Linked DNA regions of Homo sapiens. The protein of the gene in region 5 purifies or fractionates together with the protein of the main gene of each other region. This does not show direct contact. Each region holds a gene or a part of one and is shown on either strand. Other genes may lie near its edges.

Region 1 (4,349 bases), on a different chromosome or scaffold from region 5:
ACACTGCTAATGGGTCTGGGGTTTCTTCTTAGAGTGATAATGTTCTGAAATTAGAGCCTTAGTGGCGATGGTTGCAGAACTCTGTAAATCTATTTAAAACCAATGACCTATGCACTTTATTTGATTGGGTGGATTTTATGGTATGTGAATCATATCCCAAAACAAACTATTCTTAAAACAAAAAAAAAATGTTGATTGAACCTTTTATTCTCTTATTTTTTTTTTTTTGAGAAGGTGTCGTGCTCTGTCGCCCAGGCTACAGTGCTATGGCACAATCTTGGCTCACTGCATCCTCCGCCTCCCAGGTTCAAATGATTCTCATGCCTCAGCCTTCCAAGTAGCTGGGATTACAGGCACCTGCCACCACGCCCGGCTAATTTTTTTGTATTTTTAGTAAAAACAGGGTTTCACCATGTTGGTCGGGCTGATCTTGAACTTCCGACCTCAGGTAATCCACCCACCTCAGCCTCCCAAAGTGCTGGGATTACATGTGTGAGCCACCGCGTCTGGCCTATTGAACCTGTTTTTTCATTGCTGAAAACGATATACTTCATAATTTAGACAGTTACTATTGAGCTATAAAGTAAAAATCTCATTTTGGCTATCAGTTTTTATATAAAGAAAGAAGAGTCAGGTTTAAGAAGGGTTTATAGGCCGAGTGCCATGACTCACATCTGTAATCCCAGCACTTTGGGAGGCTGAGGCAGGTGGATCACTTGAGGCCAGTTCGAAAACAGCCTGGCCAACATGGCAAAACCCCATCTCCACAAAAAGTACAAAAATTAGTCAGTCATGGTGGCGCATGCCTGTAATTTCAGCTACTCACAGCTGAAATTAGGCAGGAGGCGAAGGCAGGAGAATCGCTTTCACCCAGGAAGCAGAGGTTGCAGTGAGCTGAAATCACACCACTGCACTCCAGCCTGGGTGACAAGAGCAAAACTCCATCTCAAAAAAAAAAAAGAAAAAGAAAAAGAAGGAAAGAAAAAAAGAAAGAAAAGGTCTATAGATCCCCTTTTGTGATAGCTCAGATTTTGTGACAATTTAAGCTTACTGACAAATCTTAAAGCCTTGTGCTCAAGGGGAAAATGTTTTTCAGCATAATCTATAAGAAAACATGTAACAGCCCATTCCAAAACTTTGCTGTATGGTATATACCATTTATGAAAGCTTAGCTGCAGCAACATAAACACATTTATATAACAGCACAAGAGGGAAGGGGGAAAATACTATTTTGCCCACTTACCCTCAAATAAAAGACAAAGCCATAAATAAGACACAGCAGAACAGGATAAACACATTTTGTGCCCTTATAGACTTACTGATGCCACTTACCGCCTGGGTCATTGGGCCTTGCTTCATCTTCAGTGTAGCAGCTATGCTCCCTACAGCCACTTCTTCAGAAATTGAACTTGCTCTAAAATCCACTTCATCTTCAGCTTTCACGTCTGGCATTTCTGAAAGTGCAGGGGGGTTACAGAGTACATTTTTAAAAACTGATTCCTGTGCCTTACTATTCATACAACATGCTCCAGGTTTCATGTGTTTTGTTTTGCTTTTGCGTTAAAATGGAAAAGTATTCTTTTGTTGTCAGCGGCTAGTGTCATTTCTGACCCTATGCTGAGCTATTCCTTTATCGCATGGTTACTGGTTTTCCCTAGCCTTTGTAGGCGCTTGGAACTAAGCGAGGATCCAATTCAATGTCTTTTGAACATCCATTTCACTATTGACTTTTTATGACAAATCTGAGTGTAGCACCAACTTGCATATGGAAAACTAAATTCATAAGCTTCAGGGGAACAGATTAATAGCTGAAGCTAGGTAGTCCATCTTGGCCATCATCAAAAAAGCAAGGATTTGTACAAAACAAAAAGGAAAAAGCCACTGAGAATGAGAAAAAGCCTCTGGGACAAGTATGACTTTCACTAACATACAACACACTCTGATCCACCCATCACTGTAACCAGTAAGAATGAACTACTCAGCAGTTACGTCTTATTTTTAACCCTTATTTCTTCCAAAACTGAAACCTAATCACAGACTAGCTATCCCTTTCTTAAGAGAAACGTTTCTGCGCATGTTTTCTCAAGAATTACATAGTTGTCCTCTTGCTGGCCATGTTGACAGACCAAAAACAGTGGTGGTTTTTGTTACCTGACCACCACATGGTCAAGCAAATACAGGAAGGAAATGATAAATGATGTCTGAGGCAAATTTAGGCTTCTGACACTTCTTTAAACGGGACTCATGATTGAACAGTCAAAATTCACCTTAATAATCCAAATGCAAATGGAACTGTCATCTCGATTTCATGTGGAAATGCATCTGTGGTTATTAACCTAGTGATGCCACTACTCTGGCAAGAAAAATGCTCCCCACACTAAAGAGCACAGAAGTTTCTTTCACCAAAGAATAAATTATATTAAGATTTTATTCTAGGAGCACATGACATGTACAAAAGTCTACCTTAAATTTGTAAGAGTTACATTTCTATAGATGAACCTCTTTTCTTCCTTCTTTGACCTTATAATTATATAATCTTACCAGCAGTTTAAAAATGGGTAAACAAGTTTCCTTGCCCAAAGAACCAAAATCTGTGTTAAATTTCATAAAATGTTATTAAAGTTAAAATCTGACTAAGCAATCCCCTTAGAACTATCCCTTGATCAAAACATCTCTAAGTGAGTCAGAGTAATTTCTGGGGGGAAAGAGGGTTGCTTTCCTCTGGGGATGTGATTTTTGGTACCTCCTTCCTTTCCTATACCTATCAACTTTGAAAAGATGCATCTTGGCACAGCAACCAGTCACACTAGAAAACAGTGATTACTCACACTTGACGGGTGTCGGCAGCCTCTGCAGGACTGGCGTGGCTCAGTCATGCATCACTGATTTCCTAAGCACTGTGGTCAATGCTTTTGGTGGGTCAAGGGCCACATCCCCTTCTTTCAAACTGGCTCCTTCCAAATCAGCAGTTAAACCTATGTCTTCTCACTCACAAAACAGTATGATTAAATCTATGAGTAGAATGTAAACTTGATAGAAAATACCCTTTGGCTCTGAGATCACACTCAGGTGCTTTTTCTCTAAAGTAATGTGACCAGGGATTTTCCCAATCCTGGCCATTTTCTGAAGAAAGTACCAATTTCTTCATGACTGGCTACTTTCTCTGTAGTCTGAGACCATCAATACAGAGTTCCTCTGCAGTTTGAGACCATGAGTATGACTCCTTTTGGTAACAGGACAAGTAACTCACCTACACAAAATTTACCAACCTCAAGCCCATATATACTGCTGAAAGTCCATACATTTTTCTTCCTTCTCAAAACCTCAAAATCCTAAACATCCGTCATTTCTCACCATCTTTACTATATGTGCTAATAAAAATCAAAGTCTGAAATTCTCCCTGGTTTTTACTTTTTCTCATAGGATACTACAGACACAATCCCCACAGAGTTCACACTTGCTTGAGTCAAATTCTGACCACTGAGCCAGAAAGAGAAATAATTCCGGCCCATGTGGCCAAGGACGCAGCACCGAAATGAAAAGAACATCACCAGGCATCAGCTTACAGCCACTCCCATTCTTCTGAAATGCCAACCTGCCAGGGCCCCCAAAATAGACTTGTTGTTGTGGCTTTTTTTAAAAATTAGAGACCTCATTTAAATCCTGAGACAACAGCCAGCAAGTATCTATCACTAACAATCCAAAACATTAATAAAACTAAAAAGCTAAAGTCATCAAAAATTCTACCTCGGATTCCTTAAATCCCTCAACTGGGGAGGAAAAAGATTATAAACGGCTAAAAGCCCTTTACCAGGGAAAATAACCACTGTATTTAAATTGCGCTTCTTCCAAAGCAACTTCTTTTGCTCCATTGATTCATTTCTCTCCATAACCCTCCCCCACATTCTTAATACATATGTGTAAAGGGATTTTCAAAAATTGAAAAGAACAGCAAAAATAAACAATAAAGACAAAACAGGCTGCTTCTTACCTACAAAAGCCTAGGGGCAAGCATGGAGATAGGTCTTCTGTCTACAGCTGGTAACAGGTGGTGGTATAGAAGTGTGCATCAAACTGACCTTTAAAGACTTCAGGAGCCAAGATCGTGTCCGACTCCCGTTTCAGCTTCAGCCTCAACCCCCGTTAAGAAGTTTTATTCAGATAGTTTATTTCCACGGAGCAATAGCGGTTTCTCTTTGCTGCCTCGGAACATGGTTACCCACAGATGGAACAGGCTGCTGTGTGAGCAATCTGCTCAGTGCAGCTGCTTCACCAAGATAAAGCAGACACAAGGTCTGCCCTGTGACAGCAGCTCAGCAGACTGGGCTTGGGCGGAAATCCTGCATCCT
Region 2 (3,257 bases), on a different chromosome or scaffold from region 5:
AGAGCCAAATACAGGTGCTTAGAATGTGGTTTTTTTTTTTTTTTTTTTTTTTTTTGAGACGGAGTCTGGCTCTGTCCCCCAGGCTGGAGTGCAGTGGTGCGATCTCGGCTCACTGCAAGCTCCGCCTCCCGGGTTCACGCCATTCTCCTGCCTCAGCCTCTCGAGCAGCTGGGACTACAGGAGCCCGCCACCGCACCCGGCTAATTTTTTGTATTTTTAGTAGAGACGGGGTTTCACCGTGTTAGCCAAGATGGTCTCGATCTCCTGACCTCGTGATCCGCCCGTCTCGGCCTCCCAAAGTGCTGGGATTACAGGCGTGAGCGACCGCGCCCGGCCGGTGCTCATAATGTATTCTAAAGGTTAGAGCCAAAAGCTACAGGCAAGGCTGGAGTTTACCGTTCGTCCTGCTGTTTGTCCAGCTCTTGCTGTGGCTTCGAGTCTATGTCCTTAAGAGGCACTTGCAGCTTCTGGCATCTAGCCAGGGTGGCTGGGGACAGCATTGAAAAGGGGGCTGTGGGAACAGCCTGGTGCAGCAGTGCCCCCTCAGCTCGGATTGATTCCTTTGTTGCAAACATGAGGAACCAGAAGCTGTCACACAGTAGCGGCCAAGTAGGACGCTGGCGTGCCACTGTTTGGCCCAGTCTTCCAACCTCCCTCACGGTCAAACAAGCAGCCATTATTTATAAAAACTCAACACACATTGGATTTTAATGAGAAAATAACTGTATACTTGCATTGAATGCCTCACAATCACTCTAAAACCAAAGCAGGATAATAACATTTAAGTGGTTAACATACACAGGAAAACCAGATACAGAGTATAATTTCCAAACACAGTATTGCTGCTTTTTTCCCCTCCTCCCCCAAAAAAAGAAAAACAAAGAAAAAATAATTTGGGTAAAGAGCAACACAAAATCAAAATTGGCAGCTCACTGAATGCTTAAAATTCAGGAAATTTGTTCTTTAACTAAAATGGAATATATTCACCATCTCTAACACTTAGGCTACTTTTTTTTCAATACATAGTTTAATTAAATCCATTCTTTAGTTGGGAAAAAAAAGGTTTAATTATTTGTCTTCAGAGACAAGAATCAACACTGTTTTAGTGTTCCTTGTTACACTTTATATATATATATGTGTGTGTGTATATATATGTGGACATTGATCTATATACGGCTTATATGTCATTGTCTAGGGTGAGCAGCATGCATGGGTATGAAGAGGCAAGTAAACTGCATTGTGTCATCCAAGTAAAACACAGCACGGCCTCCTGCCACTGACAGACCCTGTTTCCATAATTTCTGGATGAGAAAGCCAAGTCATGTCAGTAGTTAATCAGCTCTGGAGGAAAGTGAACACCTATAAACACGGCAGAATGCAATACTTCCAGAAAGGCTTTTAACACCTACAGAATCTAAACATTTTGTAAGAGGTGGGGTTAACAAGCTTGTGTGCTATTTGGGGGTGGGGCTGAGCATCAGAGGCAAAGTTTTTCGTAAGCCTCTTTCTCTCGATGGATTAGGCAGGAATGACTTTCCTCCAGGGGACGGTCCCATCTTCAGAAAGTTAAAAGGGTCCATTTGGGATCCCAGAGCCTAGCACGGTGCTATGTACAAAGCGGTGGCCCAAGGTTTCTTGAATGAATAAAAAACTCAAGAGCACAGAGAAAATCTGGCTCTCCCAAGTAAACTGTAATTTACATTTTCATGGGATTATAATAGGATCTTCAGTGAGTGGAGCAAGAAGATAGACAGCAGTAATCCGGAAGGCAGCATAGGAGTAATAGCAAAAGTTAAGAGATGTAGGGGCCACAGTGAAAACAGCTTTGTGACTGTGGGAGAGTCCCAGAAACAGTATTTCTTTCCTTATCCACACACGGAGCATGGCCCAAGAACCCCCAGCTCTAGAACTCTGTTATTCTTTAAGCAATAAGTGCTCTGGTTCAATCAACTGTGGTCAAAGACCACTTCATCTGCCTCTAAAGCCATTCCGCGAATAGTGTGGCCTCTTAAGCTTTTCTCTTAGCTGTACATTCTCTTGTCAACTGTAGGTTTCATGAAGCACATGGTTTCCTTCAAAACAGAACAAAAAACTTTAAGGTAAGTCATAAGGATGGTTTCCTCTTGTGAAAAATGGGGAAGTTAGTCTATATCATGTCTATGGTCTCTACCAGATCCATGAGTCAGAGAAAACATGAAGCGCATCACATTTTTTGGGCAACCCATAGAACTATCCTACTCTCCAGCCATCCTAACTGCCACTGTGCCTGGGGCTGTGCAATGCTGCTGCCTCCTCTGTTCTTATCCCTGTGTCTGCTTTGGGAACGCCCCCTTATCGCTGGGTTCTCAGCCCAGGCATCTGGGACCTCTGGCTAGAAATCCTCAGGTAAAGACGATCCTCCTTCCTGAGTCCTCCCATTTCACATCAGGACTTCTAATCTAACACGGATCTCATTTTCCTGAGAATTTTAGTCTCCATGCCAACCTCCCTCACTATAAAATGAATTTCTTGCAACAGGGATCTTACTTGTTTTGCGTCCCCAGTGGCTAGCACATTTTGTTGAGAATTCATTCAAAATATTCAGGAGACTCAACCATATAAAGATGGTGCCAATTGCCCATGTGCTATTTGGGCTGCCATCTGTAGGATGTGGCTTCAAGTTAGAGCTCCCTTGGCAGTTTTAAAGGATCCTTGTTAGTAGATGGTTCCATTTTTTACTTTGTGCCTACTTCTCATTTGTGAATAAATGTCCCCCCCCAAAGTCAACACTAGTCTAATAAAAGAAGCAAAGGAAATGTGCGTTAACATCTACATACAAATTTTGTGAAATTGCTACTTGTTAGAATAACATAATAGAGCTTATGACATAACAATATAAAAACAAAAATGATTTTTAGTGAGGTCTGAGTTAATTATTGCTTTTTTAAAAAACCACAGTTTTAAAACAAAGGAAAAAAAAAGAAGGCTGTTTATTTTTTTTTCTTTCTCATGGCCAGAATTGAAAATTTTCTCATCCAGAAATTTAGGGCACCCAATTATTGAATACCCTTATCATATTGCTTTAAATGACAGAAAGATTAAAGCTGGCATCCTCTATAGTATACTAAGCATGAATGTAAAGTATGAGAATAAATAGGAGACTCTCCTAAATGTCAAATTACAAAACCGCTCAAAACTTTGTAATTGTGACTCATGCAAATACCTTGTTAGGTCAACTTAATATTACAAATACTGCATCAGCTCGGTGCCTTTATATC
Region 3 (4,349 bases), on a different chromosome or scaffold from region 5:
TGAATTCATTGATTGCTGAGGCTAGTATGTACAGTAAGTGTTAGATCTTGAACATACTTCTCATATCCATTGTGATAAACCCTCTTATCTTCTATTGCTTTTGAACTTTTATAGACTTGATGTCAGGGGCAGAGTCCCTCAGGTAACTGGAATCATTGAACTGATGCATTGGTTTCTAATTTTCTAAGCTCAGATTTGAAATCACCTGTGGTCACTAAACTCGTCCTATCCCACAGCCCCTGCACATGATGACTTAAGTTTTGTGAATGTTTTTTGGAGATAGTAAAGTCAGTATCTCTTTCAACATTTTGTTCCTTATCTTTAGTGATACCCAGCTCTGTACAAATTCTGTCCACGTAAGCAAAGTCTTTTTTTTTTTTTCCAGATAGGGTCTGGCTCTGTCACTGAGGCTGGAGTGCAGAGGTTCAGTCATAGCTTCAACTCCTGGGCTCAGGCTGTCCTGCTGCCTCAGCCTCTTAAGTACCTGGGACTACAGGCCTGCACAACCACACCTAGCTAATCTTTTTATTTTTTGCAGAGACAGAGTCTCCCTATTTTGCCCAGGCTAGTCTCAAACTCTTGGTCTCAAGTGATCCTCCTGCCTCAGTTTCCCAAAGTGCTGGGATTACAGGTGTGAGCCACCACACTCGCCTGCAAAGTCTTACTGATAAAAGATTTGAAGGAAGGATGTGTCAGAGAACTTCTTTTTTCTTATAATATTTACTTAATCTTATTGGTTTGGGGAAGGGCAAGAGAATCCCAGTTATCTAGATTTTTCTTTTTCTTAAAGGAGTATGTTTTTACTTGCTAACTCTCTTTGTAAACTGTTACTTCTTAAAGATGCTGAAGGGTGATCCCGCATTAGTGTATAGGTAAAAATGATGTCTCCATTTCATATATACTGATAAGGTGACTTTATTAAGCCTTGTGGTTTGTTGATGTTGATTTTACTGAGACACTTGTGGAACAGATGTATTTTCATACAACCTTACACATCTCAGTAGTTTTCCCCACTCGTGCAGTAACTTTTTCTCCCCTGCTTTCTCTCCTCCTCTCCCCACCTCTTCTTCCTTCCCCTCCTCTCCTCGTCCCTTCCCTCCTCTTCTCATTTGATACAAAGCCCTAACTCTCTTCCTCTACAGATCATCCTACCCATGGTTGAAATTGCAACTTCCCCTGCAAGCCAAGTGACCGAACCTGAGATGTTTGTATTGTCAGGGCTTGCGTATTCTACATGCCTGTGTAATCCTCAAAGTTCTTTCATTCCTTGCTTCTAACCTACCCAAATCCTTCTAATCTCCCACCATGGTTAATTATCTCTGATGCTCCTGAAAGGTGACCTGCTGCTACATTGTGACAAGGTGATGCATTATTCTTAAGAGGATCTGTGCAGATTATTATCCCAGAGTGAGGTAGATGGGGGAGGATACAGGATATATCCAAAAATGTGTTGCAAGCTAATTGATAGAGAGAGAGAGAGTGTGTTTGTATGTGTGTGTGTAAGCATGCGTCCATCTTTTTCTTACATATTTGAGCCATAGGGAAGTAGAGCCATGTATATTCTCTTCAACCAAATTAACAGTTGTAGACAGTGGTCTTGCTATTGCTTTGACTATTAATGGTATTTTCAAGAGCTCAGTGTTACCCCCAAATGTTCAGTATCACACCTTGGCTGGTCAGTCGTAGCTAAATTTTCCTTCCACCTTGCGCCCTGAAGAAATTTAGAAAGTCACCAGCTGACACAGAAGTTTATTGTAAAAGTTCACTAGTACGATAGTATTTGGACCTTGGAAAATATTTCCCCACCAGAACAGTGAAATCATGAAATCATGGTTGTCTTCTAAGCTCATCCACAAAAGTACAGTTTGACTGTCATGCATTTGAGATGCCATGTGCTTAATCACGAAATATTACTGAGAGGAACACTCTTGCCCAACCAATAACGGTGCAAAGCAGAAAAACAGGGCATTTAGCTGGGAGAAAATGAGTCGAGATGTCAGTGATAAGATGGAAGGAATGTGGGTATGTGCTGGGTCTTTTAGAACTCCAGCAGATTGCTCTGGAAAACAGCCACTACATACCAAAAGTAGCCGGTCATGGTGGCATGCGCCTGTAATCCCAGCTACTCGGGAGGCTGAGGCGGGAGAATCACTTGAACTCGGGAGGCGGAGGTTGCAGTGAGCCAAGATCGTGCCATTGCACTCCAAGCCTGGGTGACAGAGCAAGACTGTCTCAAAAAAAAAAAAAACAAAAAAAAAAACAAAAAAAACACCACTCCAACAAAATACTTCTCCTTCCTCATATAGTGTCCCTGCTTCCCTTTATGCCTCAAGACCACACATTTTGAACTTGCTGAGCTATAAGAAGTGAATGGAGAGGTGGGACACAGGTGCACAGCCTTCAGTAACTGAAGGAAAAAAAACAGAAGAAATGTCTAACCCTGAGCTTCCTGAGCTCCCTTCAGCCACCCAGCTGCTGAGGGGCAGGAATCCAGCAGCAAGGTGGAGAGCAGAAGGCATTCCTGCAACCTGTATGTGTGGGTCATTAGTCCCCCACCTCCAGCATCATTGCAGAATCTGCAAATTTAAAAGTGCGTTAGGTAAGAGCCTTTTTTATAAGAGGCCCATATTTTTGCTAATACATAAAAACATTGTGATTAGTCAAATAAATGTTCATTTAAAATTCACAGTAGCATGTGTCTATTTTTTTTTTTTTTTCCTTTTAGAAATGAGGTCTTGCTCTGTCACCCAGGTTGGAGTACAGTGATGTTGTGATCATAGCTCACTGCAGCCTCCAATTCCTGGGCTCAAATGATCTTCCCACCTCAGCCTCCCGAATTGCTGGGATGCCACCATGCCTGGCTGATTCTTTTATTGTAGAGACGGGATCTTGCTGTGCTGCTCATGCTGCTTTCCAACACCTGGCCTCAAGTGATCCTCCTGCCTTGGCTTCCCAAAGTGCTGGAATGACAGGCATTGAGCCGCCGTGCCCAGCCTATGATTTTTCTTAGCATTAATCTCTGTGTCATTGCAAGCTGTCTCCCACGTCCTTGCCTTCATTCTACATTGTTTTGGTGGAATGGCCTGTGCTAGCAGACAAGACCATCCGGTCGACCTTGAGCATCCTTCCCTGTCCTCAGGGAAGGTTTCCTGGGCCTCATTTTGTTTTCTTTGTATACCAGCGGGGTGCAGCTCATTTGAATGAGCTTGCAGGGGAGCATCTGTGATAGCATCATGATCAGATGAGACAAAACTGGCACGGGTCCTGGTCATGGTTGAAGACCTTTATGCTCCTGATTCTATTGGGTGTCTTCTACTGGTGAAGGCTCATGTGCTCATGGGAACACGGGCATGCTGGTGTCTTCCGAGTCCTCTCCAAAAACAAAGCCCAGGTCAGGTACAGTGGCTCACGTTTGTAATCCCAGCACTTCGGGAGGATGAGGCGGGAGGATTGCTGGAGCCCTGGAGTTCAAAACCAGCCTGGGCAACACAGTGAGACCCTGTCTCTACAAATAACAGTAAATAAAAATTAGCCAGGCATGGTGGCATGCACCTGTAGTCCTAGCTACTTGGGAGGCTGAGGTGAGAGGATTGCTCGAGCCCGGGAAGTTGAGGCTGCATGAGCCTTACCTGCACCACTGCACTCCAGCCTGGCAGACAGAATAAGAACCTGTTTCAGAAACAAACAGACCGGGCACGGTGGCTCATGCCTGTAATCCCAGCATTTCTGGAGGCCGAGGCGGGTGGATCGCCTGAGGTCAGGAGTTCGAGACCGGCCTGGCCAACATGGTGAAGCCCCATCTCTACTAAAAATACAAAAATTAGCTGGGCGTGGTGGTGGGCGCCTATAATCCCAACTACTTGGGAGGCTGAGGCAGGAGAATCGCTTGCACCCAGGAGGCGGAGGTTGCAGTGAGCCGAGATTGCACCGTTGCACTCCAGCCTGGGCAACAAGAGCAAAACTCTCTGAAAAACAAACAAACAAAAATCCCAAAGCCCTTAGTTCCAAATCTTGCCTCATACCCCACCCGTCCCATCTTTAGGTGAAAACGTTCTTTCATTATCAGTGCGTATCTCTCCAAACTGTATTTGTAACTTGTGCTGAGATGTTGAATGCACAGACGCACCTCAGTATCTTCTGTTCCTTCTTTCATCCCTACCCCCACCTTCCTCAATCTCTCATTGCTGCGTTTTCTTCCATTAATCAACACCTTTGTAAGGAGAAGCACCTCAGGCAAGCTCCCACAAGCAAGTGCTTCGAAATACTTCATTTGGGGCTTTTTAAAAGGGCTACCTTTTCCTAGCAGGTTTGGGATGCAGTCTGCTAGTTTATTGTTAATTCTCAGGCTT
Region 4 (4,349 bases), on a different chromosome or scaffold from region 5:
AAATTTCCTGAAGGATTCTCTCAATGCTTTACTATCCACATCATTCTTTTCTGCTATCTTGTCATTATCCTAGTAAATTTTCTCTTCAGTTATAAATTGCTAATTCCACCAAATATTCTTTTGTCAATAGTTTTGTGAGTGCTTCAAGCAGATTTTCAAGAAACCTTTCATCCACTTCATGAAACTTTTCCCAAACTGGCAATTTTACTTTGAAGTTGATTTTGACTTTATTGTTTTTGACTGTTTTTATTTTTTTTTAATTTTTTGTTGTTTTGCGACAGAGTCTCGCTGTGTCACCCAGGCTGAAGCTGGAGTGCGGTGGCGCGATCTTGGCTAACTGCAACCTCCATCTCTTGGTTCAAGCGATTCTTGTGTCTCAGCCTCCCGAGTAGCTGAGACACAGGTGCACGACACCACGCTCAGATAATTTTTTGTTTTTGTTTGTTTTTGAGACAGAGTCTCACTCTGTCACCCAGGCTAGAGTGCAGCGGCAAGATCTCAGCTCATCACAACCTGTACCTCCCAGGTTCAAGCAATTCTCCTGCCTCAGCCTCCCAAGTAGCTGTAACTACAGGCGTGTGCCACCATGCCTGGCTAATTTTTGTATTTTTAGTAGAGACGGTGTTTCACCATGTTGGCCAGGCTGGTCTTGAACACCTGACCTCAGGTGATCCGCCCGCCTTGGCCTCCCAAAGTGCTGGGATTATAGGCATGAGCCACCACATCCACCCAATTTTTTGTATTTTTAGGAGAAACGGGGTTACGGCCATGTTGGCCAGGCTGGTCTTGAACACCTGACCTCAGGTGATCCGCCCACCTCGGCCTCCCAAAGTGCTGGGATTATAGGCATGAGCCACCACATCCACCCAATTTTTTGTATTTTTAGCAGAAACGGGGTTACGGCCATGTTGGCCAGGCTGGTCTTGAACTCCTGAGCTCAGGTGTTCCGCCCACCTCGGCCTCCCAAAGTGCTAGGATTACAGGTGTGAGCCAATGCACCCAGCCAGGTTTTTTTATTTTTTTAAATTAAATTTTTGAGACAGGTTCTGGCTGTGTCGCTCAGGCTGGAGTGAAGGCACGATCTCAGATCACTATAACCTCTGCCTCCTGGACTCAAGAGACTCTCCTGCCTCAGCCTCCTGAGTAGCTGGGACTACAGATGTGCGTCATTATGCCCAGCTAATTTTTTTGTATTTTTTGTAGATGGGGTTTCACCATGTTGCCCCAGCTGATCTCCAACTCCTGAGCTCAAGCAATCCACCCACAACAGCCTCCCAAAGTGCTGGGATTACAGGCGTGAGACACCGCAACCAGCTGATTTTGACTTTATTGTTGGGTCAGCAACAGAATGCCTGACAAAGACTCTGACGGAACAGGGAGATAAGTTAATGTTAAGCCAAGGTGAATATATGATAAAGGACTAATTTTATAAGTGATCCATTCATTAGCAAATATTTTCAGGCTATGAAGACATCTGCTTCCCAAACATGACTCTGTCCAGTGTAGATCTCAACTAATGAATATAGCACTTGGGTATTAAGGGCATTCTCCAGGCTTACCAGATATCATGGTTTCTTACCCAGTTTGTACTCATCGTTACAACCTTGACTTCGTAAACGCCTAATCAGCTCCAATTTAGCTAGATGTGGTCCTCGGAGATGGCGAGAACTTTTAGATTCTTCCGTTATCCGATCTTCTATAAACTTCACAGCTTTTTCTGCAGAATAATGTACTTCTCCTTCTAAAGAGCTGAGGAAAAGCACATGAAAAAGGAATTTTATTGCCTCTATTGTCCTTCCCGAAGCTTAAAGTCAAGCCAAACTCATTTAAAAAGAGAAAAACGACTTTGATAATATAAAATAATAGAAAAAGGAATAAAAGAGAACTATGAACATATTCTAACAGATAACATGTTATAAGATTACTCTCAATTTTGGCATTTGATTACTGCAGCATAACTTACCTTTTTAAAAAAAGAATGCATAATTTTGTATATATGAAATACTGCCTGGCTGGGCGTGGTGGCTCACGCCTGTAATCCCAGCACTTTGGAAGCCTGAGGTGGGCGGATCACTTGAGGTCAGGAGTTCGAGACCAGCCTGGCCAAGATGGTGAAACCCCATCTCTACTAAAAGTATAAAAAACTAGTCGGGCGTGGTGGCATGCACCTGTAGTCCCAGCTACTCAGGAGGCTGAGGCAGGAGAATCGCTTGAACCCAGGAGGGAGAGGTTGCAGTGAGCTGAGATCACGCCACTGCACTCCAGCCTAGGTGACAGAGAGAGATTCCATCTCAAAAAAAAAAAAAAGAAAAGAAAAAAAAATTGCCTAATAAAAATATAAGGCTGGGTGTGGTGGCTCACACCTAAAATCCCAGCACTTTGGGATGCTGAGGTGGGAGGACTGCTTGGGCCCATGAGTTTGAGACCAGCCTAGGCAATGCATGGAGACCCCATCTCTACAAAAAATTTAAAGCAGCCAATTGTGGTGGCACACACCTGTAGTCTCAGCTACTTGGGAGGCTGATGTGGGATGATCACTTGAGCCTGAGAGGCAGAGATTACAGTGGGAGGCAAGATTACACCACTGCACTCCAGACTGGGTGACAGAGCAAGACCCCATCTCAAAAAGAAAAAAAGGCCAGGCACGGTGGCTCACACCTGTAATCCTAGCATTTTGGGAGGCCAAGGCAGGTGGATCACTTGAGCTCACGAGTTCAAGATCAGCCTGGGCAACATGGTAAAACCCCATCTCTACAAAAAATACAAAAATTAGCCAGGCGTGGTGGCTCATGCCTGTAGTCCCAAGCTGCTTTTGGGGCTGAGGCAAAAGGATCACTTGAGCCCAGGAGGCAGAGGTTGCAGTGAGCCAAGATCACACAACTGCACTCCAGCCTAGGTGACAGAGTGAGACCCTGTCTCAAAAAAAACAAAAATTAAAAATTAAATACACACACACACACACACACACACATATATTTTTGAGATGGGGTCTTGTACATTTTATTGCTTTAAGAATGAAAACTGAGAAAAATTAGGTAACCTAGTTAATATTACGAAGCAAGCATCAGCTCATAACTGTCATCTTGAATTTTACTTCTGTATTAATTTTTTAAAAGATCCCATTTATTCACTTTTTTTTGAGAGGGAGTCTTGCTCTGTCGCCCAGGCTGGAGTGCAGTGGCACGATCTCGGCTCACTGCAAGCTCCGCCTCCCGGGTTCACGCCATTCTCCCTCCTCAGCCTCCAGAGTAGCTGGGACTACAGGCGCCCGCCACCACGCCCAGCTAATTTTTTGTATTTTTAGTAGAGATGGGGTTTCACCATTCACAGGATGGTCTTGATCTCCTGACCTTGTGATCCGCCCGCCTCCACCTCCCGAAGTGCTGGGATAACAGGCGTGAGCCACTGTGCCCGGCCCCATTTATTCATTTAACTCTAGATGCCTATAAAAAGGAAAAAAAATTTATTGTAGTACTGCCTACAATAGCCAATAACAAAAGGACAAAGGAAAAAAAAAGAGATCTTCAAAAATCCAAGTATCATCAATAGGGAAAATGCTAAATGAATTATGGTACATCTGGAGTACTCTTAAGCCACTGGGGGGAAAAAAAATGAAAGAGATCTACATGTACCAGAAATGAAAGATGTTCAAGATATATTTCAAGGCTGAAAAATAACAGGTTGCAAATCGTGTCTAATACAATCCCATTTTTATATTAAATATAAGAATAATTAAGCCGGGCGCAATGGCTCACACCTGTAATCCCAGCACTTTGGGAGGCTGAGATGCTGAGATGGGTGGATCACCTGAGGTCAGGAGTTTGAGACCAGCCTGGCCAACACGGTGAAACCCCGTCTCTACCAAAAATACAAAAAGTAGCTGAGCACGGCGGTGGGCACCTATAGTCCCAGCTATTCGGGAAGCTGAGGCAGGAGAATCGCTTGCTTCTGGGAGGCAGAGGTTGCAGTGAGCCAAGATCGTGCCATTGCACTCCAGCCTGGGTGACAAGAGCCAAACTCCATCTCAAAAAAAAAAAAAAAAAAAAAAAGGAGAAAAAGAAAAATTATCTTAGCATAAAGATGGAAATAAATCTCACGGAAAGGCACCAAACTATTAACAAGAGTTATTTTTGGAATGGTAGGATAAGTGGAAATTAGCACACCACATATTTTGGCACTAACATGATTTTTAGAATGAACTTGTGTATTTTATACTTTAAAAAATATGAAAAAATGTCTTACTTTGAAAGGAATACTTTATTGAGACAGAAAAAGAGAATTCAATTGGCTTATAATGAAATCCTTTCACTACACTATATTAAAAAGTGCTGTTATAATTCAGGAAAGAA
Region 5 (4,349 bases):
GCCCACTTTTTAATGGCAGAAATACCATTTGACCCAGAAAACCCATTACTGGGTATATACCCAAAGGAATATAAATCATTCTGCTATAAAGACACATGCACACATATGTTTATTGCAGCACTATTTACAATAACAAAGACATGGAACCAACCCAAATGCCCATCAGTGATAGACTGGATAAAGAAAACGTGGTACATATATACCATGGAGTACTATGCAGCCATAAAAAAGAATGAGATAATGTCCTTTGCAGGACATGGATGAAGCTGGAAGCCATCATTCTCAGCAGACTAACACAGGAGTAGAAAACTAAACACCGAATGTTCTCACTCATAAGTGGGAGTTGAACAATAAGAACACATGGACACAGGGAGGGGAACATCACACACCGGGGCCTGTCAGGGGGTGGGGAGTGAAGGTAGGGAGAGTATTAGGACAGATACCTAATGCATGCGGGGCTTAAAACCAGACAGGTTGATAGGTATAGCAAACCTCCATGGCACATGTATACCTGTGTAACAAACCTGCATGTTCTCCACATGTATCCCTGATTTAAAGTAAAATTTTAAAAAAAGGAAAAAAAAATTAGCTGGGTGTGGTAGCACATGCCTGTAATCCCAGCTACTTGGGAGGGTGAGGTGGGAGAGTCGCCTGAATCCAGGAGGTGGAGGCTGCAGTGAGCTGAGATTGCACCACTGCACTCCAGCCTGGGTGACAGAGCGAGACTCCATCTTGGGGGGGAAAAAGAAAGTATTATTTCAAATAATTTTACAAATGAAATCATTACTACATAATTGTCCATCAAAACCTCTTCATTTAGGGCCGGGCTCGGTGGCTCACGCCTGTAATCCCAGCACTTTGGGAGGCCGACGCAGGCAGATCTCGAGGTCAGGAGATCAAGACCATCCTGGCTAACACGTTGAAACCCCGTCTCTACTAAAAATACAAATAAATTAGCCGGGCGTGGTGGCAGACGCCTGTAGTCCCAGCCACCCAGGAGGCTGAGGCAGGAGAATGGTGTGAACCCGGGAGGTGGAGCTTGTAGTGAGCCGAGATCGCGCCACTGCATTCCAGTCTGGGCAACAGAGTGAGACTCCGTCTCAAAAAAAAAAAAAACCTCTTGATTTAGAAACCGAGACAGCTTGTTCCCTTAGGATTTCACTTTTCAGGTGAATATGTGTACTTTGGGGTTGGATCAATTTTAGGGATATGAAAGGTAACAAGATTGTTGTCAATTAATTTGCATTTTCACCGTCTGTTTTTGTTATTGATTCCAATAGGGAGATTCGGCTGATTCTTTTTTCATTGTAGAATCTGGAGAAGTGAAAATTACTATGAAAAGAAAGGTAAGCATTCTAAGTCCTCAGAACCCACATACTGTTAGCAAGGAACACAACAGATCTACTTTTTGATGTTTAGACTGAGGTTAATTTTATTTTTCATAAGCTGAGGAAAAGCTCATCTTTTTAATTGCCTTGTCAGGGTAAATCAGAAGTGGAAGAGAATGGTGCAGTAGAAATCGCTCGATGCTCGCGGGGACAGTACTTTGGAGAGCTTGCCCTGGTAACTAACAAACCTCGAGCAGCTTCTGCCCACGCCATTGGGACTGTCAAATGTTTAGGTAGGGATTGCAACAGTGGGCGTGCTTCTGCTGGTTGAACTTATGTCTGCATTTTATGTATTCATGTTGAGTGAATCATTTTATTGGGTTCACAGGTTTTGTGGTCCCCACAAAAGGTAACAAGATTAGGACTCATTGCCTTATAAAATCAATTTGTGGAAGCCATTTTTTCTTCGAAATTTTTACATCCAGATACATTTTGCTCTTCTTGTGTATATATGAAATAACATCCCATATTAGTCATTAAAATAAGAGTTCCAAGTACCACGTTTTATATGGAATCTCTCAAATAAGCAACATGTGCTATGTTCCTCAAAAGAGAAGGCTAAAGTACTATTTTTATAAAGTCCGTTATTAAGATCTGCGGGGAATGCTGAGATGTTGTGAGAATCCTTACTCATTACAGTATTGGGACACAAAGGTTCAGGTTTGTCAAAGCACAGTCAAATGTTCTTTGCTGTTCAGTTGTTATTACTATTTTACCAGAGTAGCTTGGCAGAAATGTCATCTTCAGGTGCAGGCATCTGTATATATCTGAGATTATATATCTGAGAAATCACTTACTTTGATAAGAAAATACAGTTTAGAAGGTGGCAATATGGAGGGTATTTTAAGAAAATTGATCTCACAGTTATTACCCTCTCTGTGCTTTTCATCCATAATTCAATAGCATAAACTTAATGTTTTTAAGATTTGCAAGGATCCTTAGAATTAACTTCTTAGAGAAGTCATTCTTTAAAAGGGTTTAAATAAGTATAATATTAATCAAGTGTTAAATTTGGATGGAAGAGAAGACGATTAGAAACTGGCAGGTAATTTCCCTAAGTAGGGCTATTAGAAAGAGTAAAGGTGAGTGAGTGAAAGTCTATTAGAAATAGTAAAGGTGAGTGAGTGAAAGTCTATTACAGTAAAGGTGAGTGAGTGAAAGTCTATTAGAAAGAGTAAAGGTGAGTGAGTGAAAGTCTGTTAATTTTTTTTCAATAATAGATTATTATACTCACATCAAAGAAAACCTGAGAAATACAGAAAATGTAGAAAAAACATAACACCGCCACTCAGTGATTTCTGCTATTATAATTCCTTCTTGTCCTTTTTATTTGTGTGGGCTTCCAGTTGTTAAACAGTTTTCCAAACAACTTTTAAAGTTCATTATCGCTTAGGAATGTTCTTATTTTATTACACCAAATTTTAAAATTCTTTTAGGTAAATATATACACGATAAATTAATCATTCCTTAGTGGTAAATACTTCGAAGGTTTTGGCTCCAACTTTTTTGTGGGGAGCAATTTTTTGTGCATAGAAGACTTTTCTGTATTATAGGAGTTTTCCTTAGAAATGGTTTTCAGGAGTGGGTTTTTAAAAAATTAACTTTTGACACATATTGCCAGATTACTTGTATTTGTACACTACTAGCAGTGCCATAATGCCCATTCACCCTATTCTTGTAAACATTGCCTTTTTTATCTTTTTATCTTTAGTGTAAAAGGCAAAGAAGATCTATTTTAATTTGTACTTTTATGTATAGAGTATGATCATATTTTCTATTTATATATTATAAATCCAGTTTTAAAATCCAGGAGACAGGCAAGCAAAGTGATTTCTAGCATGTACTTATAGAAGTAAACAAAAGCATTATGTCAGCTGCCATTTTTGGATTGCATAGACATAGTATGGCAGCAAAACTTACAAAAGGTTAACACTTGGCCTTCACAACATGGCATTTTAAACCCTGAGAAGGGAACACAGGATAGAAAACACTCTTGTGCCACCCTTGAGGAGTTCACATTGCTAAGGTGGAGACAGCACATTTATTTTTTAAAATTCTAAGGTCTTTCCATGATAGTCCCTCATTCTTTTCTCAGCTTGGACCAGGAACCTCCCACCAACTTAGCATTGCTCATCATATTGCCGAGGGACTGCAGAGTGTGGTCCAAGAGCGTGGCCCTGGCTGCTTCCTTTTTCAAGTGGAACATTTTTATCATTATGCTTTTTCTTGTATTTTATAGTATTTACCTAAAATATCATTGCACTATTGATATATATGGAGTCGGTATTGTAAATGACTTAGAAATTCTGCAGATTTGCAAAGAATGTTATTTAAAAAAAAATCTTCTCTTTTCTCAGCAATGGATGTGCAAGCATTTGAAAGGCTTCTGGGACCTTGCATGGAAATTATGAAAAGGAACATCGCTACCTATGAAGAACAGTTAGTTGCCCTGTTTGGAACGAACATGGATATTGTTGAACCCACTGCATGAAGCAAAAGTATGGAGCAAGACCTGTAGTGACAAAATTACACAGTAGTGGTTAGTCCACTGAGAATGTGTTTGTGTAGATGCCAAGCATTTTCTGTGATTTCAGGTTTTTTCCTTTTTTTACATTTACAACGTATCAATAAACAGTAGTGATTTAATAGTCAATAGGCTTTAACATCACTTTCTAAAGAGTAGTTCATAAAAAAATCAACATACTGATAAAATGACTTTGTACTCCACAAAATTATGACTGAAAGGTTTATTAAAATGATTGTAATATATAGAAAGTATCTGTGTTTAAGAAGATAATTAAAGGATGTTATCATAGGCTATATGTGTTTTACTTATTCAGACTGATAATCATATTAGTGACTATCCCCATGTAAGAGGGCACTTGGCAATTAAACATGCTACACAGCATGGCATCACTTTTTTTTATAACTCATTAAACACAGTAAAATTTTAATCATTTT
Region 6 (4,349 bases), on a different chromosome or scaffold from region 5:
CAGGTGAAACCTCACTAGATAGAATGTCCTCCTGTGAGCTGTCATCCTCATAAATGGGAGACAATGCTAAAGGATAAATTTTGTACCTTTTGGCCTCCACTGATAAGAACATTTCTGAACTATCACTATCAAATGTCTCACCTAATTTAGTACCTTTTTCAAAGTGATGGACAAGGTCAGTTCTACTCTCAGACCTTTCACATGCCAGAACAGGCATGCTGTCAGCGGACGTATCATGAAACAAGACAGACTGTGTTTGTCTTGCTTCTGCGGAAGCATACTTGTCCTCCTCTTGAAGGGGCTCTTCGTATAATATAGTAAAGGAAGAATTTTCTTGTTCATCTTGAGAAACAAAAGCTAAATTATATCCTTTGTCACTATAATCTGTCTCTCTCCTCTTGTCATATATTGCAGTAAGAGACATTCTTTTGTCTAGTCTTACTGTGGTATCCCCAGGTTGAAAATCTGGCATTGCTGGGGCTGGGTAGCCCTCATAATCCTTACTTAATGTAGGGGATTCATATCCCCTGAAATATGTAGGAAGTCTATTTTCATGTGCTATCAAGCCTTCCTTTATTTCTGTAGGCTCTTCCTTTGTTTCTTCAACACTCCCTTCAGCATACTCTTGTGGTGTTTTACTTTCAAATGCAGGAAGCATGGCCTCCCCTTGTTTAGTGGTCAATTCTAGTCCTGTTCCATGTATTTTCTCAATGTCTACCACTGCGGGTAACACTTTGTGTTTCCCAATATTCTCACCACGATCTTCTGGGGATATTTTTTCCATTTCTATCACAGAGGGTGTGGACACAGTTGCTCCAATAGTCTCTTTAACATCTCTCTTGCATGCTTTTTCCATTTCTAAGGGGGCAGGTGCTGTCTCGTGTGCTTCCTTCACTTTTAACACACACGGTACTATTTCAGTATTCTTAATGACCTCTTCAGCAGTCTTTCGGTAAGTAGCTTCCATTTTCAACACAGACCCTTCAGTGTTCCCGGTAAAACCTTTGGCATTTTTTTGGTAAGTATTTACTACCTCTAATGCAAGGGGCATCACCTCAGTTTTGCCACCGTCTCTTTCAGTATCCTTTGGGTAAGTATTTTCCATTTCTAACCTCACAGGCATCACTTCAGCCTTTCCAATATCCCCTTCAGCATCCTTTTGGTAAGTATTTTCCATTGCTAATGTAACGGGTATCACTTCAGCCTTTTCACTAATCCCTTCACCACCTTTTTGGTGGATATTTTCCACTTCTGACAAGGCTATCGTCCCAGTCTTGCCAATATCCCCTTCAGCATGCGTTTGGTAAATATTTTCCATGTCTACTGTAACAGGTGTCATCTCAGTCTTTACAATATCCCCTTCAGCATCCTTTTGGTGGATATTTTTCACTTCTGGCATCATAGGTATCACCTCAATTTTGCCAATATCCCCTTCAGTATCCTTCATCTTATAAGCTTTTTCCATTCCTAAAATGACAGCTGATCCCTCAGTTTTTTCAATACAGCTCTCGGCATCCATTTGGTATACTTCTCCCATTTTAAAAACATTAGCTTTTGGCTCAGTTTTCGTGACATTCAATTCAGCATCCATTTTATGTATTCTTCCCATTTCTATCATAGGAGGGACTGCCTCATATTTCAGAATATTCAATTCAGCATCCTTTTTGTTTGTTTTCCCTGTTTCTAACATGGAAGGTATAAGTTCAATTTTCCCTATATTTATTTCATTATCCTTCTTGTGTACTTTCCCTACATCTGACATTGCAAGAGGTGTGTTTTTACTGTGTCCTGGCAAGTTTTTTTCAGATATACATACAAGGCTATCAGACAAACTGCTTTTAGATGTACCAGGTGCATGGATGTCATCATTCACAAGTGGAGGCCATTTGAAATTTAATACAAGAGTTCTTCTGTCCTCTGTCTCAGTTTTGTTATTATCCACATTCTCTATTTCCATTGTCTCATTACAGTCCTCACTGCGAAATAAATGTGTTTTTACCCTATCATCTAACCGTTTATGTGACATGTCTTCAGCTAGTAAAACCGTATCTGATTCCTGCAAATTTATACTATCAGACAGTCCAGATCCATTTCCAGAAAATAGGGATTTTTGGTAGAGAACAATTTCTCCTCCCTTAATTGACTCTGTGCCACTAGCTAAGTTACTTAGGGAGAAGAATTCATTTAATACTTTATTTTCACTAATTTGTGTGCTTTGATTTACTGGCTGTTCTGAAACCAAGAACTCTCTAACTACATCATGTGGCTTAACACTATCACTGTTCAGAATTTTTGAAGTATTAGCCTGAAGTTCAGAATCCCAAGTATCCTCAGTATCTTCAAAAGTATCATTTCTCAATTTTTCTTGGGCTACATAAATAATCTCATTGACTAATTCCCTAGCTTTATCTTCTAACAAACAAGATACATTCATACTATTAGGATCAACAAGAAGATTCTTCTCACCAACTGTTGGTGAAACACAGGGCTTCTCTTTGACTTCTGACATGTTTTCCATGCCTTGCTCTTCCAAACCCTCTGTCTGTTGTATTTCTGTTAGTGTCACTTCTGATGGGTTTTTCTCAGAGATGTCTTCTTTCAGGGTACCCAGATTCATTATACCTTCTATGGCTATATGCTCCTGGCAGGTACTCACTGTGTGTTTGAATTTTAGTTCTTCCCTGACAGAATTAAAAATCTCACCAATCAATGTATCGGCCTTTTTGAGTAAACTACTTTTGAGGTCCAAAAGTTGGTCATGTGCTCTTCTCCTGGCTTCTATGTGCTCAGCAGAGGCTTCAGAACACTGTTGGCCTGAGCTGTTAACTGACGCTGCAGGCCCAGCAACTGCTCCAGTCTCTGCTTCCACGAGATTGTCAAATTGGGCAGCAGTTGGGAAATCAATGGATATCTTCCCAGTATAAATCCCAAAATGTTCCTGAAATGGGGTTACTTCTGTCCCAATTGAGACAGACGTTTCAAATTCCAAATAAGAGGTAGTAGGGTACAACAGGTTAGTTACAGAGGTACCTTCATGTGTGAGATCTTTGGTAACTTGTATAGAATCCAAATTATTTTGGGGCTTATGTGAATTTACTATCATGCTAACTTCTTCAGGGTAACTAGAGGAAGATGACACACTATCAATACCACCATTTAAAAAATGGATGTTCTCTTTCTTTCTGTAAGATGAGGATTTCTTTTCCAATTTCAGCACAGAAGGTACTTTAAGGAAGCTTGAGTCCTCAGATGCAGAAGAATTTTTTTCCAAACTGGAATCAGAATCCAGAAAAGGTGAATTTACTTTCATGCTGCCAGTTTCTTGGAATTTAGGGGAAATATTAGTTAAGCTGAGTTCCGCCATTTCTGAGTGACCAGAAATCTTTTTAGTCCCACAAATATCCAAAGATTGATGAAACACACAAGTGTGAGCTTCACAATTCTGCGCCATTTGCCTACTGATTTTTTCATCATGAATAGGTGGTAAAATCCAAGATATATTACTTTTAAGAAGAGCAGGAGGAGAGCCTAAGGCATCTACCTCTGGTTCTGGCTTATCTTCATATTTGGAGGCAGCAGGAGAAAGCTCAGCTTGGCAATTCTCTTTAAGGCCAGCATCTGAACATTTCTCTCCTATCTCATTATGATTAATTGATTGAAAACGTTTGCCCTGTTCAACTTCTAGAAAGGTTAATTCTGACAAAATAGGCTTTTCTGGAACATGGGTAATTTTCAATGGAAAAGAAGACATTTTATCCTGAGAAATGTTTCTGGGCTCCACTTTTGAAAGAGATACCTTGGACAAGGATATAGTTTTTCCTCTTCCAGAATGTGACTCCACAAGAACATTGTTCTGACCATCAATTTCAGCTTTTGATACAATGTTAGCAGTTTTGGCTTCCAAGGAAAGAGAATCAGACTTCTCTATTATGCTCATATTTGCTTTAGTGTTTGAAGACACTAACTCTACTCTATTAGGGTCTTGAGATAAAATGGAACTGCAATCCTTAGAGAGGTTTCCAGAGTCAAAGCTCAATAGCTCCAACCCAGTTAAGTGAGGGCCACTGGCTTCAGAACCTGGAAGAACCTGGCATTTTTCACTATTAGAAAGAACTTCTTTGAATTCAAAAATTGCAGATGTATATTCAAGGCAAAAGGAAGGAGGAGGACTCTTCCTGCCTGCAGCCTCAACATGGTTTTTCACATTTTCTTCTTTACACTTCCTAGGCTGATAGGAAATACCAACAATGTTGACATTCCCAGTTTCAATGGGCACAGGAGAACCCTCATTCATTAAATCAGGAATATCCAACTTGCTCAGCATCCCAACTCCAGAAACAAAGGTAGGA
Region 7 (4,349 bases), on a different chromosome or scaffold from region 5:
GCTTCAACAGCTCAAGCGACAGGGGGATCCCTGAGCACCACGGCCCTATGGCAGGGGGAAGGGACATGCGCTCACCCCAGGCGGCTGGAGTGCGGCTGCCGGTGCCGCCCGAGAAGGCAGGGACTCTCCAGAACCGTCACACAGAAAGTGCGTGGACTTCTGTGTGCACAACAGAGCCCAAGGGGGCAGCACGGCGAGGAGCAGTCGCCACCCCTCCCTGCCCGGCAGCAGGCCCAGGGGGCAGCTCTCCTGCTCTGCCAGCTCCCAGACACCCACAGGCTGAGAAAGAACAAACAGCCATCTCAAAGAAGTATTTTCACACAGTTCACCTCAACACAGTGAAAACTCTCAAGCTGATGAAATAAAGACCACATGGAAAGGGGAGGGAAGAAAGGTAGAAGTCATTATGAATTTATTATTTACACGATTGTTAAAGTACACAAATACAGTGGCGATACAAACGCACAGCTCGGAGACTGGCCGTCAGTGCACAGCTGACACGACGTCCTACCTACGTCTCCTGCACGGGGCGACGGGGACTAGATACTGGGCAAGGACTGTCACAAGCACTCCGAAGACGCGACCCGGCGAGGCTCGGGCTGGAACCCGGGCGCAGAGCTGCCTCGCACAAACGTTCTGGGCACTACATCGGGACCACAGATATTTACAAAGCAAGCTTGCGCCACTTCAGGCCACAGCGCGACGTCTCTCCGGGTGGGGGACGTCTACCTTCAAGAAGGGGTCCAGCAACAAAGAAAATCTCTTAACTCGGCTCTGACCCACCCCAACCTCCCTCTGTACTTCAACACACAGCTCCCACCCGCTCAAGGCCCCGTACTCCAAAACGCTTACACAGTAACCAGCCTAGGATTGAGAAAGCATCCATGGGCTCAGGCAGACGGCCAGCCAGCTGGTGGGGGGGTGAACAACTGTGTTCTGGGACGCCAGCCAGTTATGGCATCCGGGGAACTCTGGGGAGGAGAAGGGAGAACCAAGGTGCACACCTTCGAAGCCCTAGAGTCCAAAGGGAACATCGTCCATCGTGATGGGGTCCAGCCGAAGTGCCCACGAACACAGACTGCCCTGCGCATTGGGGTTGGGAGCACATGGCCACTGGCTACCGCCCAAGTGCTGCGGAGTGAGAGGCGAGAAGGCATCCTGGGAACCTCAGGGCACAGCAGCATGGAGCCTGGGGCAGCACCAGCTCACGGAGGCCACCTGCCTTCTGGTGGGACTCGGCCCCACGCACGCTGCTTCACTTCTGACCAACAGACACGCGCCCAACAGAAGGTCACAGCGCAGACTCTACTTTCTGGCCGTGAAGGTTCTGGGTCCGGTTGGGAGAGTCACCTGCTCCTTGGCACCTCAGGGTGGGTCCTTCTGGCCTGCCGGCTTTTCTGAGCTAGTCTTGGCACGTGGCAAGGACAGCCCCGCTCCTGGTTTTAAGCACAGGCATTCATACAGACGGAGTGCCAATCCGCACAGGAGCATTGAGTGCTGAGAAAATGGACTGAGTGCAAAGGCAGCAAGGCAACAAACACTACAGTAACCACCTCTCGGTTCACAGTCCTCTCCCAAGGGACCAGAAACGCATCTTCCACCTTGAATCCTGGGACTCCCAATTGTCCTGCTAGGGTCTCAAAGCCTCTGCTTCCAAGCTCTCAGCTGCCTGCCCACCTCCTGGGGAAGAAGCGCGCAGTGCTTTGCCTGGTAACACCCACTGCACCCCTGCCCCGCGGCAGCCTGCGGTCCCTAACTGCTCTCCGAGGGCCTCAAGAGTTCCTGACAGCAGGCATGTCAATTACGGGAGGAGGGAGGGTGAGACGCCAAAATCAGGTTGAAGAGGTCCCACCACACACGGGCACACACACACACCACGGACTTTTGATGAGAAATCTCCTCTCCAAAGCGGACAATAAAACACTGCAAAACAAACACAGCACACACCCTTGAGATCCACCTGCACCTTCTCCCTGCCCGACTCCACCTCATACACTAACTCCAAGCCAGCCTGTCTCAGAATTCCTTAGTCAACATTTTTTTTGTAAGACTGCAAAAACAGACAAGAAACAATAAAAAGACAGATTTTCTTTACACAGATTTAAGCCAATAATTTTTAGCAAAATGATACAAAACTGTCTTAACCAAGTAGAAGATTGGTAGTTACAGTGGAATCGTCAGGGAGTACAGGGCGGCCACCACTGGAGGGAGCTGAGGCCCTGGAAAAGGAGTCTGATTCTCTGCAATTCTCTCTCTGCTTTTCTTCCCAGCCCCGTTACAACCGAGTTCACGTGGGGGGCCGCAGTGCAGCCCCAGCGGTGGCAGCTCTTGGAGTCTGTCCGTTTAGTATGTTTCCCCCACGAGCGTCGCTGGGTGAGTGGCCTGGAGAGCTCCCGGTGTTAACATTTCGATCCTAGACCGGGGGACGTGTCACTAGTAAAGCCATTGGTAACAGAGTAGATCAGCCATGCATTGTCTGCCCTTCACAGCAATAAGGAGAGTTCTCATCGGTGCACGACAGACTGAAGACCACTGGAAGCCACCCGACCAGGAATCTGTCGGAGCCAAAGCACAGGAGAAGGTCAGCATGGGGCTGGGGGAGCCGGCCAGGCAGATACCACAGTGACGGTGCTGGGCAGGGAGGGGACGCACCGCCACCGCCTAGCCCCAGTCTAGACGCCTGCGTCCCCCGCCACGCACAGGGGCCTCTGTGGCTGGGACACGTGCTCAGCAGAACGAGTGACAGGAAGACGGGAAGGAGGAAGAGGCATGCAAGCAAGGTGCCCGCGGAGCCGGGCTCGGCAGGGTCGAAGGATCCGAGTGGAGCGGAGACGGGTGCTCCTGCCTCCCTTCCTGGAAAGGAACCTGGTGTTTGAAAATGGGTACCCCTCTCAGGGAAGACATGAAAAGCAGTTCCTGTCAACACATTTCCAGAGTGTGCACAGTGTGAAAACTGCAGCGGGTCTCCCAGCGGCACAGACCCGACAGAAGCGCAAGCCCCTGCTGGAAGGAGCCGCCGAGCGCGCGTGGCCGCCGAGGAGGGAGCACAGCGTGGACGCCGGCCATGCACCGACGGCGGGGAGTGAGTGGGCTGCGGCTGGAGGAGTTAATACAGACGAAGCTGCGTGGACAAGACGGCTGGGCAGAGACCAAGTGTGAAAAGAAACACAAAACAAGGACAGAGATAAATGAGACAGGAAGAGAGAGGCGACTAGAAAAGCTGGCATGGCAGAGACTGCCCAGAGTGTGGCGCAGCAAGAGCTTAGGAGCCCCCAACACCAAGCGTGGAGCCACCCAGCTGAGCAGGACACAGACGCCCCTCCAGGCACGGCCGACCGCAGACAAGGCAACTCAAGTGCTCGGGGCACCCGCCTTGCCACTCCTGCCTCACGGGTGGGCACCCAGGACAGGAGGAGAGCAACGGCACACGGAACGCAGTCACGGGGAGGCCACAGGCCAACAGGATGGTCTCCTGGGGTCACTCTGTTCCAAAGCTCTCTGTGGACAGCCTCCCCCCAAGACTGGGCAGCGGACTGCCGCCGCTCTGCACCCCACAAGAAGAACAGAGCAGAAGAAGCCTCACTCTACCTCCAGCACCTGGCATGCAAGCCCAGCCCACCTGCAAGCTCCCATGGGTGGGGCATGGTGGCTCCCACCCACCTGGCGCTGCTGCCTGGCGCCCGCCACGCGCACACTCACCCAGTGCTGCCTTCCGATGGGAGACGAGCAGCTACTTGCCGTGGTGTTCGAAAGGAATGCTATTCTGAGGTGGGGAAAAGACAGCTGTTGGTAAGCGTCCCGCTGGCCCCCTGACTACCTGTGTCGGCTCCATGTCCAGATGGGCATCCTTGCCTCAACCAGGTCCACAGACCGACAGGTGCCACCTGGGGGAGCCCAGGCACAGAGCACAGCCTCACTTGCCTCTCAGGACGGGCCTCTGGATGAGAGTGGTGCCCACTCCTCTTCTGGAATCACTTGCTCTTAAGGCCAACAATGGCATGGGACAGGCCCTCCTGAGTCTTCTCAAGCACTAAGAAAACCTGATCCCAGCAGGATGGCAGGTGCTGGGCAGCCCCACAACTGGGTCTCAGGGCACAGCCTGAAGGCAGGGGAGACGCACATCCTCGCCGGTACGACGACAGGGCTCAGGCCTAGTCCTGGGCAGGAGTTGATCAAAGCGAGTCATCGACTGTTGGAATGACAAGGCCTTCTTCTCACCAAGTAAAAACCCCAAACAGACTCAGCAACTAGATGGCCTTTAGGGCCCAGGCTACTGTAGCCAAAGAGCCCTGGCCGAACACCAACAGCCCGAAAAGAGAGGGGGCGAAGAGGGAACAGACCCAGGCGGA

The links.
Region 1: the proteins of PRKAR2B (region 5) and AKAP13 purify together in Homo sapiens (affinity purification with mass spectrometry; 4 studies listed by BioGRID and IntAct, with this or other methods). This does not show direct contact.
Region 2: the proteins of PRKAR2B (region 5) and PALM2AKAP2 purify together in Homo sapiens (affinity purification with mass spectrometry; 4 studies listed by BioGRID and IntAct, with this or other methods). This does not show direct contact.
Region 3: the proteins of PRKAR2B (region 5) and PRKX purify together in Homo sapiens (affinity purification with mass spectrometry; 4 studies listed by BioGRID and IntAct, with this or other methods). This does not show direct contact.
Region 4: the proteins of PRKAR2B (region 5) and NAA25 purify together in Homo sapiens (affinity purification with mass spectrometry; 3 studies listed by BioGRID and IntAct, with this or other methods). This does not show direct contact.
Region 6: the proteins of PRKAR2B (region 5) and CRYBG3 purify together in Homo sapiens (affinity purification with mass spectrometry; 3 studies listed by BioGRID and IntAct, with this or other methods). This does not show direct contact.
Region 7: the proteins of PRKAR2B (region 5) and CSNK1D purify together in Homo sapiens (affinity purification with mass spectrometry; 3 studies listed by BioGRID and IntAct, with this or other methods). This does not show direct contact.

What each region holds. Positions count from the first base shown.
Region 1 is NC_000015.10:85,582,807-85,587,155, reverse strand, and holds part of AKAP13 (A-kinase anchor protein 13), read right to left. Parts: intron 1,455-4,349; coding exon 1,333-1,454; intron 1-1,332. UniProt on the Homo sapiens protein: Scaffold protein that plays an important role in assembling signaling complexes downstream of several types of G protein-coupled receptors.
Region 2 is NC_000009.12:110,169,935-110,173,191, reverse strand, and holds the end of PALM2AKAP2 (PALM2-AKAP2 protein isoform 3 (PALM2-AKAP2)), read right to left. Parts: 3' UTR 680-3,257; downstream 1-679. UniProt on the Homo sapiens protein: Binds to regulatory subunit (RII) of protein kinase A. May be involved in establishing polarity in signaling systems or in integrating PKA-RII isoforms with downstream effectors to capture, amplify and focus diffuse, trans-cellular signals carried by cAMP.
Region 3 is NC_000023.11:3,657,629-3,661,977, reverse strand, and holds part of PRKX (cAMP-dependent protein kinase catalytic subunit PRKX), read left to right. Parts: intron 1-2,439; exon of another isoform or gene 2,440-2,491; intron 2,492-4,349. UniProt on the Homo sapiens protein: Serine/threonine protein kinase regulated by and mediating cAMP signaling in cells. Acts through phosphorylation of downstream targets that may include CREB, SMAD6 and PKD1 and has multiple functions in cellular differentiation and epithelial morphogenesis.
Region 4 is NC_000012.12:112,070,316-112,074,664, forward strand, and holds part of NAA25 (N-alpha-acetyltransferase 25, NatB auxiliary subunit), read right to left. Parts: intron 1,750-4,349; coding exon 1,580-1,749; intron 1-1,579. UniProt on the Homo sapiens protein: Non-catalytic subunit of the NatB complex which catalyzes acetylation of the N-terminal methionine residues of peptides beginning with Met-Asp, Met-Glu, Met-Asn and Met-Gln. May play a role in normal cell-cycle progression.
Region 5 is NC_000007.14:107,155,704-107,160,052, forward strand, and holds part of PRKAR2B (cAMP-dependent protein kinase type II-beta regulatory subunit), read left to right. Parts: intron 1-1,280; coding exon 1,281-1,346; intron 1,347-1,482; coding exon 1,483-1,621; intron 1,622-3,745; coding exon 3,746-3,879; 3' UTR 3,880-4,349. UniProt on the Homo sapiens protein: Regulatory subunit of the cAMP-dependent protein kinases involved in cAMP signaling in cells. Type II regulatory chains mediate membrane association by binding to anchoring proteins, including the MAP2 kinase.
Region 6 is NC_000003.12:97,873,162-97,877,510, reverse strand, and holds part of CRYBG3 (very large A-kinase anchor protein), read right to left. Parts: coding exon 1-4,349.
Region 7 is NC_000017.11:82,242,277-82,246,625, forward strand, and holds the end of CSNK1D (casein kinase I isoform delta), read right to left. Parts: exon of another isoform or gene 4,196-4,349; intron 4,190-4,195; coding exon of another isoform or gene 4,088-4,189; exon of another isoform or gene 3,922-4,087; intron 3,764-3,921; coding exon of another isoform or gene 3,731-3,763; exon of another isoform or gene 3,700-3,730; intron 2,556-3,699; coding exon 2,505-2,555; 3' UTR 391-2,504; downstream 1-390. UniProt on the Homo sapiens protein: Essential serine/threonine-protein kinase that regulates diverse cellular growth and survival processes including Wnt signaling, DNA repair and circadian rhythms. It can phosphorylate a large number of proteins.